2 separate regions of the Homo sapiens genome follow, and region 1 is linked to region 2. The links come from fine-mapping of genetic effects on gene expression. Tissue or cell type: testis. Region 2 holds a variant in brackets; the other region holds the start of a gene. All regions are shown on one strand. Distances are between the middles of the regions. Region 1 holds the start of PAH (phenylalanine hydroxylase). Region 2 holds the start of LOC112267865 (a long non-coding RNA gene).

Region 1 (8,000 bases), 33 kb after region 2:
CTGGCAACAGAGCGAGACTTCATCTCAAAAAAAAAAAAAAAAAGGCAAGATTTAGAATCATGTATAGTATGCTACTATTTGTGTAAGAAAAGGAGGGAAGGAATATATGCATATACACTATCATAAATATTTGCTTAAAGATCTCTAGAAGAAACTGACAACATTGGTTATCTTTGGAGAAGAGAATCAGGTGCCTGATGAACAGGGGAATGTGAAATAATTTTCACTAGGTTTTATATTTTGATGTTTGAGCCATATGAGTGCTCACCTCCTCAAAAATAAATGAAAAAAGTTATATCTAAAAGGAAAAAATTATATAACTTGGAGCAAAAAAATAAAAATACAGCAAAAAAATTAAAATATAAGGGATAACTTTCAAATCAGAGAAAGAAAATTTGATCTATATATCTAGCGGAAAGTTAAAATAGGCTCTATGGTGAGAAAATCCCAAAAGACAATTGATTGTGGGATTGGCCTCTTTAAGTTAAGTGGTATTACCTGGACTGTGGGACCATGTTGAAAAGCCTCTAAGAAATCCCCAAGGCATGTACAGGTATATCTACAATGCAGGTAGATTAAAGATCTAGCTATGATAGATCTAGATGCTAGAGAGAAGAGCACCTCTTTGGAACTTTGGGATGGGGAAGGACTTCTTAAACAATACTCTATAGTACAAACCACAAAAATTTTTAAAAGGATGGACTTGTTATTTCAAAATTACTTGTTTTATTGTTTAATCAAGGAAGGACACCAGTTGACAATTAACTGACAGTGACACATTGGGAGGCAATGTGTTCAGTGACTGAGAAGGGCACAGAGCTAATATTTGGACACAGAGCTAACAGAAATTATTGCAACAAATCTACAAGACAGGAATCCTAGTAGAAAATGGGTAGAAAATATGATGATAAACTATTCATAGCATGGGAAATCTAAGAGGTATAAGTATATAAAGAGATGCTCAAACTCATGAGTTATGAGAGAAATTCAAATTAAAAACAACAAGACACCAGCTTATGCTGATCAGATTGGCAAAAATTCTGACCTTTGGAGAATACCACATATTAGGTATACCCACCAATAGGAACTCTTTTGCCTGCTGGTTGGTGTGTAGACTGGTCCAAGCCACTCTAAAGGGCAATCTGGCAGCACTTTGTGAAATTAAGAGTGCATGTTCCCTATGATTCATAATAGCACCACTCTTCTATCCCAGAAAATTTCTACCCCAGGCCTATAAGGGAAGAAAGATAAGGAAATTTATCACAGTATTGTTTGGGGTGGTGAAAAATTAGCAATGACTTAGATGTCCATAACTGGAAAATAAAGAAGTCAAGTGTGGCAAATACACACTGGGATATTCTGAACCATTTAGAAAAGCAAAGAACTAGATACATATTCAGCAGCATGGCTGGATCCTAAGAACACAGTTGAAAGAAAAAAGAAACTATGAAATCTATAGTACATCCATAGATTGTAGTAAATCTATAGTGCCACATCACATATCCATGAAAAATACATATACGCACAAACATTTCTATGTATTTTACAAGTTCAAGGCTAAACATCATATTAGAGAAGTTGCCTCTGGGGAAAGGCAGTGAGAGTGAGGAATTATGATAAAAGAGAATGAATAAAAAAACAAGAGAAGGGTCATGTAGGTTTTGTTTCTGTGCCATGAACTCATGGATTATGATTAACTCAACCTTCTGCACATGAAGATAAACAAGAAAGAACTGATAAACCTGCAATGGTTGGGTAATCTTCAACTTCCAAATCAGCAAAGGTCAGCTCTAAGTTTGCCAAGTACACAACTTCTCATCTTGTGACATGTTCCCCACCTCTGTGCAGTGTTAAAAAATACCTCAGTGGTCTACTGACTGACTGTGGATGCTTCTTCTAGATGTGCCTTTTTTTCCTCCATTTCCTTAGCACCCAGCACTGCTCTCATTATAGCAGCACATTGCATTCCAACCAAATTGAACAAAAAGGTGGCTTAAAAATCATCTGCAAGTTTATGGCACAAGCAATCTCTTATTTTTATCTTAGTGCATAAATAAATTTTTCCTTTTTGCCAGAATAATTTTTTTTAAAGAAGCGATTAGTTTTTCTTCTCTCAGATAGCAATGATGTGCTTTCCTCTCAACCTAGATTTAGGGCATTTTTATGTGAGATAGGATTAAAAATTCCATTTTTGTACAACCACTATGGAGAACAGTTTGGCAGTTCCCCAAAAAACTAAAAATAGAGCTACTATATGATCTAGTGATCCCACTGCTGGGTATATACCTATAAGAAAGGAAATCAGTATATCAAAGAGATGTCTGTTCTTTTATGTTTGTTGCAGCACTGTTCACAATAGCCAAGATCTGGAAGCAACCCAAGTCTCCATCAACATGGGTTTTAAAAAAATGTGGTACTTTAATACACAATGGAGTACTATTCAGCAATAAAAAAGAATGAGATCCTGTTATTTGCAATAACATGGACAGAACTGGAGGTCATTATGTCAAATGAAATAAGCCAGGCACAGAAAGCCAAACATCACATATTCTCACTCATATGTGGGGTCTAAAAATCAAAACAATCTGATTCATGGAGCTAGAGAGTAGAGAGCTAATTACCAGAGGTGGGGAAGGGTAGTAGGGGCCTGGAGGGGAGGTGGAGATGGTTAATAGGTACAAAAAAATATAGAAAGAATGAATAAGACCTAGTATTTGATAGTACAACAGGGCGAATATAGTCAAAATAATTTAATTATACATTTAAAAATACCTGAAAGAGTATAATTGGCTTGTTTGCAACACAAAAGATAAATGCTTGAGGGGATGGATGCCCCATTTTCAATGATGTGATTATTACACATTGCATGCCTGTATCAAAATATTGCACATACTCCATGAATGCATACATCTACTATGTTCCCACAAAAATTAAACATTAGAAAAAAGAGTTGCATTTTCAGCTGTTATGGGGAGAAGAAAGAAAAGCTATCATTTTGTTGTCCTAAAAATTATGTTGTCCTCATTTCAAACAGGAAAGCAAAAGTATTTGAGAGCCAGTGCAGTGCCTTGGTGTTGGGTGAAACATAGATTGAATTTGGGCCATTTGTTTAAACTTCCTAGGCCTCAGTTTCTTGCCTATTAAAAGGGAGTGCATAGTTCATGGGATTGTTAAGAGGAAGAAGTGAAACCATGCACGTGGAGAGCGTGGCACAGTGTCTAAGACAGAGTGTGCATGCAAATAAGTAGATAATATTCTTTGCTTTTCTTTATTGCATGCCTGTAATATTTTTGGAGTTGTCACATTCATTGCCCTCAAGTAGCATCAAGGGATGAAATTATGTTTGTAAGAAAATCCTGAGGCTGAGGAATACAACATGTTTTATGTCTACTACACTGAAAAATGCCGGAGTCAGATAAAGAATACAGATTCTCCTGAGGATGGAAATCAAGATCTTCGCCTTCAATATTTAACAACATTGAGCTTCCAACTTACTATGGGAAATATTCATCAGGCCCCTAAAGGTTCCTTTTGGACAGAAATTGCACTTGTTATATCTGTATTCTTAGCAGACAGTAGACAGCCTGGCACATCATAAAGGCTTAAGGAATCCTAAATATCCCTTAAAATTCTCATTTTAAAGACAAAAACAAAACAAAAAAAAAAAACAAAAAAAAACTGAGGCATGGGCTTGACCAAATCAGTGGTAGAACCAAGAGTTAAACCACTTGTTTTGAATCCTAAACCTGAGTTTTATTTTACTTATTTATTTATTTATTTGTTTATTTATTTTCAGATGCTTGGTCAAAGAACAGTGGGAGGAGAGGGATGGGCTTCCAGCAACCTTTATTATTGGCTTATTTTCTTACAGCCCATTACTTTCTCTTGGGAAAATATTAAGCAGGCACTCAAGGCTTGAGGCCCCTGAGTTTTCACATCCTTTCTGAACCTCTGAACCTGCTTTCCAGCATTCTTTTATACTTTGTTTTACCTCCTGGTCAGTAATGCCTCACCCTCAGTCTTCTCTAAAAGTGTGGTTAATGGCATCTTCCTGACTATTTGAAGACCACTGGCCAAATCCCACCAGCTCACTCATAGACCATCCCCCTACTTTACTTTCTTCAAAAGACTTAGCCCTACCTAAACTTATTTATATGTTTATTTTCTGCCCACCAGAATGGCAGCATAGCTGGGGAGGCAGAGTCTGTTTTGTTCATTGCTGTATTCCCAAAGACTAGAACACCACCAAGCACACGGTACAGGTCTCAGTAATTATTGTCAAATTTATGTGGATTTGCTTTTAAACAATATCTTCCATTTACTGAGTGTTTATGTGGAAGAACTGTACTAAATTTTAATGCATTTCTTTATTCCTATTCTTAAAACCTTCCAGCAAGGTGGCTCTACCACCCTCTTTTCCGAGCTTCAGGAGCAGTTGTGCGAATAGCTGGAGAACACCAGGCTGGATTTAAACCCAGATCGCTCTTACATTTGCTCTTTACCTGCTGTGCTCAGCGTTCACGTGCCCTCTAGCTGTAGTTTTCTGAAGTCAGCGCACAGCAAGGCAGTGTGCTTAGAGGTTAACAGAAGGGAAAACAACAACAACAAAAATCTAAATGAGAATCCTGACTGTTTCAGCTGGGGGTAAGGGGGGCGGATTATTCATATAATTGTTATACCAGACGGTCGCAGGCTTAGTCCAATTGCAGAGAACTCGCTTCCCAGGCTTCTGAGAGTCCCGGAAGTGCCTAAACCTGTCTAATCGACGGGGCTTGGGTGGCCCGTCGCTCCCTGGCTTCTTCCCTTTACCCAGGGCGGGCAGCGAAGTGGTGCCTCCTGCGTCCCCCACACCCTCCCTCAGCCCCTCCCCTCCGGCCCGTCCTGGGCAGGTGACCTGGAGCATCCGGCAGGCTGCCCTGGCCTCCTGCGTCAGGACAACGCCCACGAGGGGCGTTACTGTGCGGAGATGCACCACGCAAGAGACACCCTTTGTAACTCTCTTCTCCTCCCTAGTGCGAGGTTAAAACCTTCAGCCCCACGTGCTGTTTGCAAACCTGCCTGTACCTGAGGCCCTAAAAAGCCAGAGACCTCACTCCCGGGGAGCCAGCATGTCCACTGCGGTCCTGGAAAACCCAGGCTTGGGCAGGAAACTCTCTGACTTTGGACAGGTGAGCCACGGCAGCCTGAGCTGCTCAGTTAGGGGAATTTGGGCCTCCAGAGAAAGAGATCCGAAGACTGCTGGTGCTTCCTGGTTTCATAAGCTCAGTAAGAAGTCTGAATTCGTTGGAAGCTGATGAGAATATCCAGGAAGTCAACAGACAAATGTCCTCAACAATTGTTTCTAAGTAGGAGAACATCTGTCCTCGGTGGCTTTCACAGGAATGAATGACCATTGCTTTAGGGGGTTGGGGATCTGGCCTCCAGAACTGCCACCAATTAGCTGTGTGTCTTTGGACAAGTTACTGTCCCTCTCTGTTGTCTGTTTACTCTTCTGTACACTGAAGGGGCTGGTCCCTAATGATCTGGGATGGGATGTGGAATCCTTCTAGATTTCTTTTGTAATATTTATAAAGTGCTCTCAGCAAGGTATCAAAATGGCAAAATTGTGAGTAACTATCCTCCTTTCATTTTGGGAAGAAGATGAGGCATGAAGAGAATTCAGACAGAAACTTACTCAGACCAGGGGAGGCAGAAACTAAGCAGAGAGGAAAATGACCAAGAGTTAGCCCTGGGCATGGAATGTGAAAGAACCCTAAACGTGACTTGGAAATAATGCCCAAGGTATATTCCATTCTCCGGGATTTGTTGGCATTTTCTTGAGGTGAAGAATTGCAGAATACATTCTTTAATGTGACCTACATATTTACCCATGGGAGGAAGTCTGCTCCTGGACTCTTGAGATTCAGTCATAAAGCCCAGGCCAGGGAAATAATGTAAGTCTGCAGGCCCCTGTCATCAGTAGGATTAGGGAGAAGAGTTCTCAGTAGAAAACAGGGAGGCTGGAGAGAAAAGAATGGTTAATGTTAACGTTAATATAACTAGAAAGACTGCAGAACTTAGGACTGATTTTTATTTGAATCCTTAAAAAAAAAAATTTCTTATGAAAATAGTACATGGCTCTTAGGAGACAGAACTTATTGTACAGAGGAACAGCGTGAGAGTCAGAGTGATCCCAGAACAGGTCCTGGCTCCATCCTGCACATAGTTTTGGTGCTGCTGGCAATACGGTCCCCACAACTGTGGGAAGGGGTTAGGGGCAGGGATCTCATCAGGAAAGCATAGGGGTTTAAAGTTCTTTATAGAGCACTTAGAAGATTGAGAATCCACAAATTATATTAATAACAAACAAAGTAGTGTCGTGTTATATAGTAAATGTGAATTTGCAGACACATTTAGGGAAAAGTTATAATTAAAAAAATAGGCTGTATATATATCAATGGTTCCAAAATTTTCTATGGTTAAGAATCACCTGGGATGGTTTTGAAATGGCAGATTCTAAGACAACTTGATTCAACAGGTTTAGGTAAAGCCCAGGGAACTGCATTATAAGAAGGAATCACCTGTAATTTTGGAGTCAAGATCCAAGGAACACTCATTGAGAAACACTGATTTACAAAGTGCATGGAGAGAAATGGAGCAAGTGAAGGGGGATCAGCATGGTGAAATATAGGCTGTTAGGAGTGCTATTGACTAACTGTCTGGTGACTGGACCAGAGTAAATCTTTTACTTTGCAAGAAACAGGACTAAATTCCCATATTATGTCCATAGCAAAGGGAATTATGTAGAAAAATTGATAATTAGGAGCCTGAGTTCTTGACCAGCCTCCACTACCTATGTGGCCTCAGGTGAGTTATTTTCTCCCTTTGGCTCTAAGTTTTCCCCATCTGTAATGTAAGGGAGTTTAACTAGATGAGCACTAAGGACAAATCAATTTCTGTGAGTCAATTATTATGAAATACCATGTGGGCATCAAATGCCAAGTGGAAAGCATAGATAAAGAAGTGATTGTGCACCTGGGCTGAGGGGAACAAACATTTCCTAAGAGAATTGAGACCCAAAAGAGCCTTTAAGGAAGGTGAGATCTTGGAAAGGGAAATTTGGTGAATACTCTAATGAGGAGCTAAAAAGGCAAGAAAGAAAGCAGCTTGGCTGGAAAGGAGGTTCCTGTAGGTGGGCCTCCAGAGATTCGGTACCACAGAAACTGCCAAACATCAGCAAGAAGCCATGGGGATGGAGCGTTTGAGGGATTCTAAATAGAAGGACAAGAGTAAAAATGTCAGGCTGGATCGATGCAGGCCACTAAGAAATGGATTCAGGTGATGGCAGTGGGAAGAAAGGACCTGATGCCCAGAGGCATTTCTGGAGAAGATGAGATCAGACTTGTGATTGGCTGAACACACACTGTAGTGGGGTGGGGTTTAGGGGGTGACTCAACTTCAAGCCCAGGTACATTCAAGTCTGAATTGCCCTAGTCAAAAGTGGCATCTGTGGATGTGTATCAGAAATATCTTACTTTTCTTGGAAGCCAACAGGAGAAAAGAGTGCTACCAAGTGAACTAGAGACAGGAATATCTTTTGTCATTTCAAGGAAACTGGAAAGAAGAAGGCTCAGTATTCTTTAGTAGGAAGAAGACTTAAGTCAGAGACTCATCTGTACCTCTCTGGCAGGGTTTAAAAGGGGGAAGAGGAATAGAGGCTGCAAGAGATTGTGATTCATGGACAGTATGCAGAGATCAAATGACCTGGGTTCAGATCCTGGCTCCACTGCTAACTGTGTAACTATAGGCAAGTTCCTTAACCTCTCTAAGCCTTAATCTTGTCATCAATAAAAGGGGGCACTTGGTGCCTAATAAAACCTACCTCTTAGGTTGTTGCCAAATTACATGAGATAATCCAAATCAAGTGCTTATTATAATACCCAGAAATTATAGGCTCTAAATAAATGTTTATATAGGCTCTAAATAAATGAAGTTTTTTAGAAAGATAACATCATGATCAA
Region 2 (8,366 bases):
CTCAAGTAAACCTGGAGTTTGCACCTCAACACTGTCATCTCCACTTTCTCCTCCAACCCTAGGGTAGAACAGTCTATAATTTTTCTTTAGAGGTTTGCATTTCTATCCTTGGGGATTCTACCAAGAGAGTTTTCCATTGATATTGGCTTTCTGGTTGTTTTCACCAGTGTGAAGCAAAAGATGGGAGGCTCAGGAGCCAAAATTAGAATCCTGCCTCTGACTGTGTGACCTAGATTATAATCCCTCCTCCCGACCTGAGAGAACTGGCCACATGTTCTGCTCTCCTAGGCCCATGGAATTCCAGATAAAGCAGGCTGATTTGACTTGGTATCTAGGCCCCTTTACCTGAGAGCTGTGTGACCCTGAGACACTCTAGGGGTCTCTATTTCACCTATGCCAGTAATTATAGTATCTACCTCCAAGAGTTGTGAGACTTCAATGATATGTATGTAGAGCACTCTAGCCCAGGTCTAAAGAGAAAGGGATTAATAAGAAAGTCATGCTCACACAACCCACCCAGGAAAGGGTGTGTGGCAGGAGGAGCCTCAGCACTTGGCTTCCTGGAACCACTCTGTGATCATCACTCCAGCCAATGGAGATCCAGTGCCACTCTGTCTCACTGTCCCAGCACCTAGGGGTGAGTCATTCCTGTCATTTTTGAGAAATGGTGGTGATACTGGCATATTAAGATGATGGAGATAGTAACCCGATTTTTAGACATGAAAAGTAGCAAGTAAGATAGACTATAGAGATGTTCTGTGGCCTCCACATGCAAGGGGCTTCAGCAGAGCCACTGGGCCCTGCTTTCTTGGCTCCCTTGCCACACAGTGGGCCTGATTCTGAGCAAGTCCTTAGGGCTTTAGTTGGCTAAGACACTTGAACAATGTCCCATTTATCTTCACATGAAGGGAGAAGTAAACAACTCACAAAAGGAAGGTTTGATACCTTCATTCATAAATGAGGTGGTAGTACTCCCTTTGCCTGTATGTCAAGGGTGTTATGAGAATTAAATCAGATGTTGTTGGGTAATTTGCTTTGCAAGTCTCTCCACATATCAGAGATTGCCTTTTCACTTTTTCCGAATAGCAGCATTCAGTGTTCTGTCTTGTCATGAGGGTGGGGGAGTGGGAAGGACAAAGCACTGATCCCCTTTGGTGAGTATCACCCAGAGTACAGACATTGCAGAAAGATAAGAAGGCTTCTCTTTCTCCTCCAATACAATAAGGGACTTAATTTCTGCACCTTCAGACCCCTTTCCTATATCAGAACACTCTGGAGCTGAACCATACTTCAGATTAGACTTTATCTTCATTCAGCATCAGGATCTGTAGGGGGAGATGGCTTTCCTAGTGGCCAAAGGGGTCTGCTGCCCTGAGATCAGAGACCCTGTGCCCTGAGTCTCCTGCCACCTTAATTTCCATTCACAGCTGAAGGCCAGGCCAGTACCACCTTTGCTGAAGCTCAAGACCTATGTATGTTCTCTTGATTGTGTGTTGTCTCTCTGTAAAAAGAAGATATGACTCATCTCTTTGAAAACCAATTTATGCTTTCTCTTTGGGGAGAGGGATTGATATTAAAAGTGAAACTAGGATTTTCATTGGACAAATAATTTAATAAAGTTATATTTTTAACTTTAGTTAGATTCTGAATCAGGGGCAAAGGGAATACAAAGATGAACACAAGTCTTGGATTCTGGATTTTGTTACAGGATTTTAAGTGTAATCCTCAATTTGGGGGTGACTTGAGTTCCAGAAGCAATGGATGCTTTGAGAAAAGTGAGTGTGCTTGGCATTCATAGCCAATATTCATCTTCCAGGAGCTATAATTAATACAGGGCCTCTGTCCTGCTGGGGTGTCTGCTGTTCTAAGGCTGTGCTAGACACTGTCCTACCCAGGGAAAATGAAAAGGACTTTACTGCACAATCTACTGCCTCTAAGAATACCCTACCCAAGGTAATTTCAGAAAGGATTGCTGCCCAGCCTGCATTGACTCTGCACCAGCCTTGGAGGGCCTGCTCAGGGGGCAGAATAGCACAAACCATGTATTTGGCTTGGCTCAGCTTCCTGGTCACAGCAGCCAGGCTTGCACCTGCATTAAGGAATTCAGCCTTCTAACAAATCTATTCACTTTTTCAATATGCTTTAAAAAGAAAAAAGTTTGAAAAAACAAAACAAAAAAAGCACAAACTATATTTTATTGTGGCTTTTGGGATAAGGAGGGAATGTGGGGTGGGGTGAGGAGGTAATTTGCAGCCACCCTCACAAGTCCTTTTGAAGTTCTCCAAATAAGGAGAAGTAACGCTAAGTCTTTATTTTTTTCTAAAGCCCCATTTACATTATGATTAAATACCTTCCTTGGATGAGCATAAAGAAAGTCGTTAATCTATATAGCTCTCCAAAGAATCAATACATTCTAAACTTTTGTAGGATTTGTTACACTCTATTTTGTTACAGTAGGCCAGCTCCTCTCTGTCTAGGCACATGGCTTTCCTTCCCTCCTCCTCCCCACCTCCTCCAAGAATGAAAATAAAGTAAAGGTCTTTCATGGTAAACAAAACCAGCTGATTCTTCACAGAGAACCCCTGAATAGCTGGAGAAGAAAAAAAAAACTTACAATAAATGGTGCATTTTTTTCTCTGCTGGGTGTAGTATTCAAGGATCAGGGCAGTATTCAAACAGAGGTCCATTTTTTGCTCAGCAAGAGAGTTTAGAAAAGAAGCGTGGAGTCCATTCAGAGCTCTCCCCCCTTCACAATCGAAGGGCTCTATGAAACCTATCTTCCATGCCTTGTCAGAGTGTTTCTGGGGACCAATTAGTGCTTTGTTGTACGGCTTCTTTGCTGAATCTTTGAGCCGCAAGAAAAAGCGCTCTTGAGTCTCCCCTTATTTTGACCATTTCAGTCATTACTCAGTGTAATAATTAATATGACAACTGGACGCTGGAGTTTGTATAGAAACACCTCAGCTACAGGAGCAAGTGTGCAGTGGGTGGTAACGAGCCGCACATCAGCCGGAGAAGCCACACACACAAAAAAAGCAATGAATGGCAAGAGAGAAAGAGAAGGAATAAAGATAAAATAGTTGGCACAACGCAGGGGAACATAAAACAGACTCAAATGAGAAGAAGGAGGGGGAAGGGGGGACAATTTAAAGGGGAGGGGGAAAAATGCCCTACAGAGGTTAACTTATTTTGAAACTGTTTTCTGAATAGAACCGTGGACGTGAGTGACCGGATTTCAGCCCATCAAATCTCCCACCCCCACTTTGTGGATCCTCTTGGAACTCGGGGGTGGGGAAGAGGGCTCCAGCAAACTTTAGGTTCTCCCCAGGGTTCTTCTGGAAGGTGTACCCAACATGCTACTCAGCCCAATTCCCAACCCTTTGCACCAGGTTTGGCTTCTGTTTTTATTTTTGCAAAGTCTGTTCCTCTTGGCTCCAACTTCCGTCTTTGGAGTTGTTAATGGAGAAGTTAGGGTGCTATGTAGATTCACCAGGCGAGTTCAGTACTACTACCCTGGGGATGAATGTTGGTGAGAAGCCATTCCAGATAGACCCCCAACAACTCTGCTTCGTTGACCCTCAGAACAGTACCCTGTGGGACTCCTGAGCCGTAAGGAGTCTCCCTGGTAGCGCGCAGCGGGGCCAGGCTCTGTGCTCCGGCCCCCGTGCGGTGCCCAGCTCTGCAGGTTCCCGAAAGTGCGCCCCGGGGTGGGGTTGCAATCCGCCCCGTGACGGCATAATAAATAATTAGAGGGTTTAAGCGTGTTAGCCACAGCTCATGCTAATGAGCCAGATAAGGGCTCACGCTAACCCGAAGTGACAGTTTGCATATAGGAGGGAAGAAGAAAAAATCCTGCTTCCCCCCCCACGCACAAACTTGATTGCTCCTTCTCAAATTCATGTCCCCAAATCCCTTCCCCCATTCCTCGGACTTCCCTCTTCTCACATGCCCCCACTTCAGCCACAACACACACACTATCCGTTTTTGACCCTTCCTTTGCCTTTCACCGGGTCAGACGGCATTGTGACGTCACAAAACCCCTGGGTGCCTATATCTGACCTGCGCGGAAAGTTCATTCTGAGTGCGTCCTGGCGAGTCTCAGCCCCCAAGCGGGTGGAACGCACCAAGGGTCTCATCCGCGAGGAAGGGCTTTAACGCTCAGGGTCAGGAACCTCTGAGAGCTCTTGGGGACTTGCGCGCCCTTGGATGCTCTTGCGTTCAACAGGGCTAGGAGACTACCGGCTGGGGCGAGGAATGCAGGCGCCTAGAGCCTTGGAGCTCCTGAAACGTTCCTG[C/A]CGCCTCCGGAAAGCAAGGGCAGTTTACCGAAGTGACTGAGGTCAGTCGTGTGTCCCCATTGTGTGGCCACGTGTCCTGTGTCCATCACCACCTTCCCAAAGTCCAAGCTCAGCCCGACTCCTTGCGGTGCGGCCTGGGAATGCTCTGGCCTATAAATCAGCTTCGTGGCTGGAGCTGTCTCCACCACCGTGGCAAACCTGGACGCTGGCCCCGAGGGCAAAGGGAAAGTGTACTCCTAACAGATTCAGGAGGAAGCAGCCGCAGCCTGAGCGCGGCATCTGCCAGGGAAACTGTGCGCCCCAGGTCAGCTAGTTAACTATTTCATCCCTCCCCACCACTCTTCCCTAGGCCAAGTATTTGCAGCACGGGCAGGGACCAGTAACTGATTTTCAGGCCTTTTGAGAGGAAGAGGAAGAGAGAGGAAGAGAAGGATTTCTAATAGTAGATATTCACTCTCATGGACTCTTTAGGAAACAGCAACAAAGACAAGATTAAGTAAGTTGATATTTTTAAAATGCTGACAACAGTGCACATAGTAAACACTGGATATGTGTTAAATAAGTACAAACAGACAGAAATAGATAACAGGAGGTATATGCTAATCATCTAAGATGTTAGAAAATACTGTTCAGATCTAAAAATGATCAAGGCTGACATGCTCATTGATTCATCAAATAACTATGAAACCTAATCAGAGGGGAATAAGACACAATGAGTGCCTTCAATACATTTGTGACTTAGTAGACATTAAAGCAGATGTATAAGAAAGTCCATTAAAACATGCGGTGGGGGCAACCATGGAGAATCTTCTTCCCCATGGTCCCTTCTCTTTGGACTCCCACCTTCCTGCATCTCCCACCCCAAATAAATACACAATCTAGGTAAAAGTGGTGGACTTGTTATGCAAACACATCCTAATGTCATCCAGCCCCTCTTCCCCAACCAGATGGTCACCCCTAAGCTTCTCCTATATAACAATTCATGAGCAGACACTAATGATTTCAACATACACACACCCTTTGACACGTTACTGTTAGGTGCAATGAAAAGGCAAGTCACTTAAAGAGACAGATCCCAGAAAATCCTGAAACTTTCTACCTCTGTGACCTCTGGCAAGTTGCTCATCGTCTCTCAGGCTCTATAAAATGAGAGGGTTGAGTAAGATGCCTCCCCTCTGATTCTGACTAAATAGAGAATACAGGCGTGGACCACATGATCCTCTAGTGGCAACCATTCCTCTCTTTGAATAGACGAACTTGGTTTGCTGTTCTTCTCCCACTGCCCTCCTGCCATAAGAACCTTCATTAGGCAAATGATGTCATCAGTGAGACCAGTCCTTGCTGGTGCCAGGATTATGGCTCTTGGTAGCCAGAAGGCAATGTCATTGGGTCAGCATGACTTTAGCCCTGGGGACTAGGGCAAGAGATCGGCCATTGGCACCTCAGGATGCACATGCAAACGGATGAAACTCACCATTGTCGCCGACAGCATTGCTTGGGAAATAGGATTCTCCTCTACTCCTGGGCAGTTTTGGGTCTAGGAATTGGGACCCCGAGAAGCTGTAATTTCTGCGAGTTGTGTGGGTCGTTCGCCACCTGCCGGTTATTTCGCAAACTGCAGCTGGGACTGCGAACATTTGCAACTTGATTCATTCAGGACTACTTGATTCTATTCCATTAATTCTTCTCCATACAATTTGGTTCAACCATAGAGCATCGTGAGGACTTAATGACGTTCTCCCCTGATACTCCCATTAGAGATAACTGAGATGTTTGTTAATATTCAGATTCTGAAGCTTTATCCCAGACCCACCAAATCAGAATCTGGCAAATTGGCTCTTTTAGCAAGCTACCTGGAAGTCCTTTTGTATACTAAAGATAAAGAACTATTTCTCTAGAGGTATTCTGGGTGATAAGACAGTCTCCATTACTCAGACTCATGAAGAACTAATATATTCTGATAAAGAAGTTAAACTAGCCATGTAAATATGTTAATACTTTATTTGGGTAAGAGGATGCCCTAGTGACTTGAGGGGGAGGAGAGGCTCAGTAAGTTATTACAAAGATGGCCTTTGATACTGGCCCTGAAGAATGGTCAGAAACTTGCAGCGGGAAGAAAAGATCCACAGGAACAACCTACCCAGCCCCGGAGCCTTTCGCTTCCTTGACTTTCTCCACTCCAGTAGCCTTAACCTCCATTCCTCTTCAGCCACCCCTTGCAAGTCTGCATCTTGGGCTTTGTCTTTACCCAAAAGAGCCCCACTTTGGAAATCTTAACTTTCCATTCCCATATGTAGCCTCATCCTCTGATTCTTCCTCATCCTCACTTCTGCCCTACCTCTCTCCAACCTCCTTTCCTGAGCTCTATTTCTTCCAATCTGGTCTCCCCCCAACTCAGGAAAGTTTGATTGATTAACTCATAAACCTGTAACTTATAAAATGCGTACCTTCCCATCCTAAAAAAAAGGCTGATACACTCTCTGACCTTGTGACCACCTTCAGCCCTCTGACAAATTTTTTGAACATTAGTCAACACCCACAGTTTCATTTATTTCTTGCTCTTCCCTCTGGAGTACCCAGAGTGTGTCTGTGGGAATCTTTCTGGATGAGGGGGGCTGAGTAAAGATTGTGGGTAGGGCTCATCCAATCTGTTGAGGGACTGAGGATGAGTGAGGGAGAACTTACTCTCTCTACCTGTCTTGGAGCTGGGGCACTAGTCTTCTCCTAACTTTGGACTCAGACTCATACTGGAACTGTAGTCTGGGTCCACAGTTTGTCAACTGCAGATCTTGGGACTCAGCCTCCATAACCACACGAGCTAATTTCTTGAAATACATGTCCATCTACATCTAATTTCTTACTGGTTCTTTTTTCTGGAGAACCCAGACTAATACAGTCACCCCGACTCTATTTTGCTACACATAAAAGATAAATCAGGTCCTACTTTATTTGATCATCTCAATGCATCTGGCCCTGCTGATCACTCATCTCTTCTTGAGATTCTCTCCTCCTTTGACTACCATGGTTCTTATCCTTCTGATCCTTTGTTTCTCAGTACTTAGTTTTTTTAGTTTCTCATCCCCAGTGTCAAGTTCCTTGATGACATATGCTGCCCTTAGAGTTTAGCTTCCACCTCTTCTGCTGATGACTCTCAAATTCTTGGTTCTGGACTGACCTCCCTGGGATCTGAAACTGGTGTGACCAACATTGCTACTGGAATATTCCATGGATGTATCAAGGGCAACATATTTGAAACTGAGATCATGCTTATTCCCTCAACTCGTTCCCTCCTTTTGTGTTCTATATTTCAGGGTTTAGCACCATCTGCCCACACAGTCAAACCAAAATCCTGGGGTCATGCCATACTCTCACCACTCTCTCACAGGCACTCCACAACCACCAAGTCTTAACAATTATACACACACACAGACACACACACACATATACACACACAAACACACACATTTAGTATGTATATAATATAAACAAATGTACATAATGAAAAATCCATCTGAATTTAAATCATTTTCTTCCTCCCTATTACTATATCATTGCTTTACTTCAGTATTGTCCCAGCTGGTATTCATGCTTTTAGTTTAATCTCCCTCAAATACTTTTTCTTCACTGCCACCAGAATGATCTAACTAAATGTCACAGTCACACGTATAAAAGGCATCAGAACATAAAAAAATGGAACTTTATATTACAGCCCCAGACAAAGAGATCTTTACAAAGTATCACATACCCTATTGCTCCTCTACAAAACCTTTCAGAACAGGGGAACAGGATGGCTGAATAGAAGCCTTCACCTATCATTCTCCCCACAGGAACACCAAATTGTGTGACTATCCACACAAAAAAGCATCTTCATAAGAACCAAAAATCAGGTAAGCCATCACAGTACGCTATTTTAGTTTTATATCACTGAAAGGGACACCTAAGAAGGTAGAAAAGACAGTCTTGAATTGCTGATGCAACTCCTCCCCCATCACCCCAACACTCCAGCAGCAGTGGACGCATGGCATGGACAGAGAATCTGTGTGCTTCGGTAAGGGACAGCAAAGGGATTGT

Evidence for each region.
Region 1: it holds the start of PAH, and the variant in region 2 is fine-mapped to the expression of PAH in testis (GTEx, PIP above 0.99).

What each region holds. Positions count from the first base shown.
Region 1 is chr12:102,914,239-102,922,238 of GRCh38, reverse strand. PAH (phenylalanine hydroxylase) reads left to right here and starts at 4,995. Exons shown (of 13, transcript NM_000277.3): 1 at 4,995-5,168. The coding sequence starts at 5,109.
Region 2 is chr12:102,946,559-102,954,924 of GRCh38, reverse strand. LOC112267865 (a long non-coding RNA gene) reads left to right here and starts at 4,080. Exons shown (of 4, transcript XR_945280.3): 1 at 4,080-4,336; 2 at 4,645-4,791; 3 at 8,123-8,182. It also overlaps a transcript of PAH not described here. RefSeq lists enhancers at 2,023-3,436, 4,045-4,972. The variant C/A (reference allele first, on the strand shown) is at 4,296.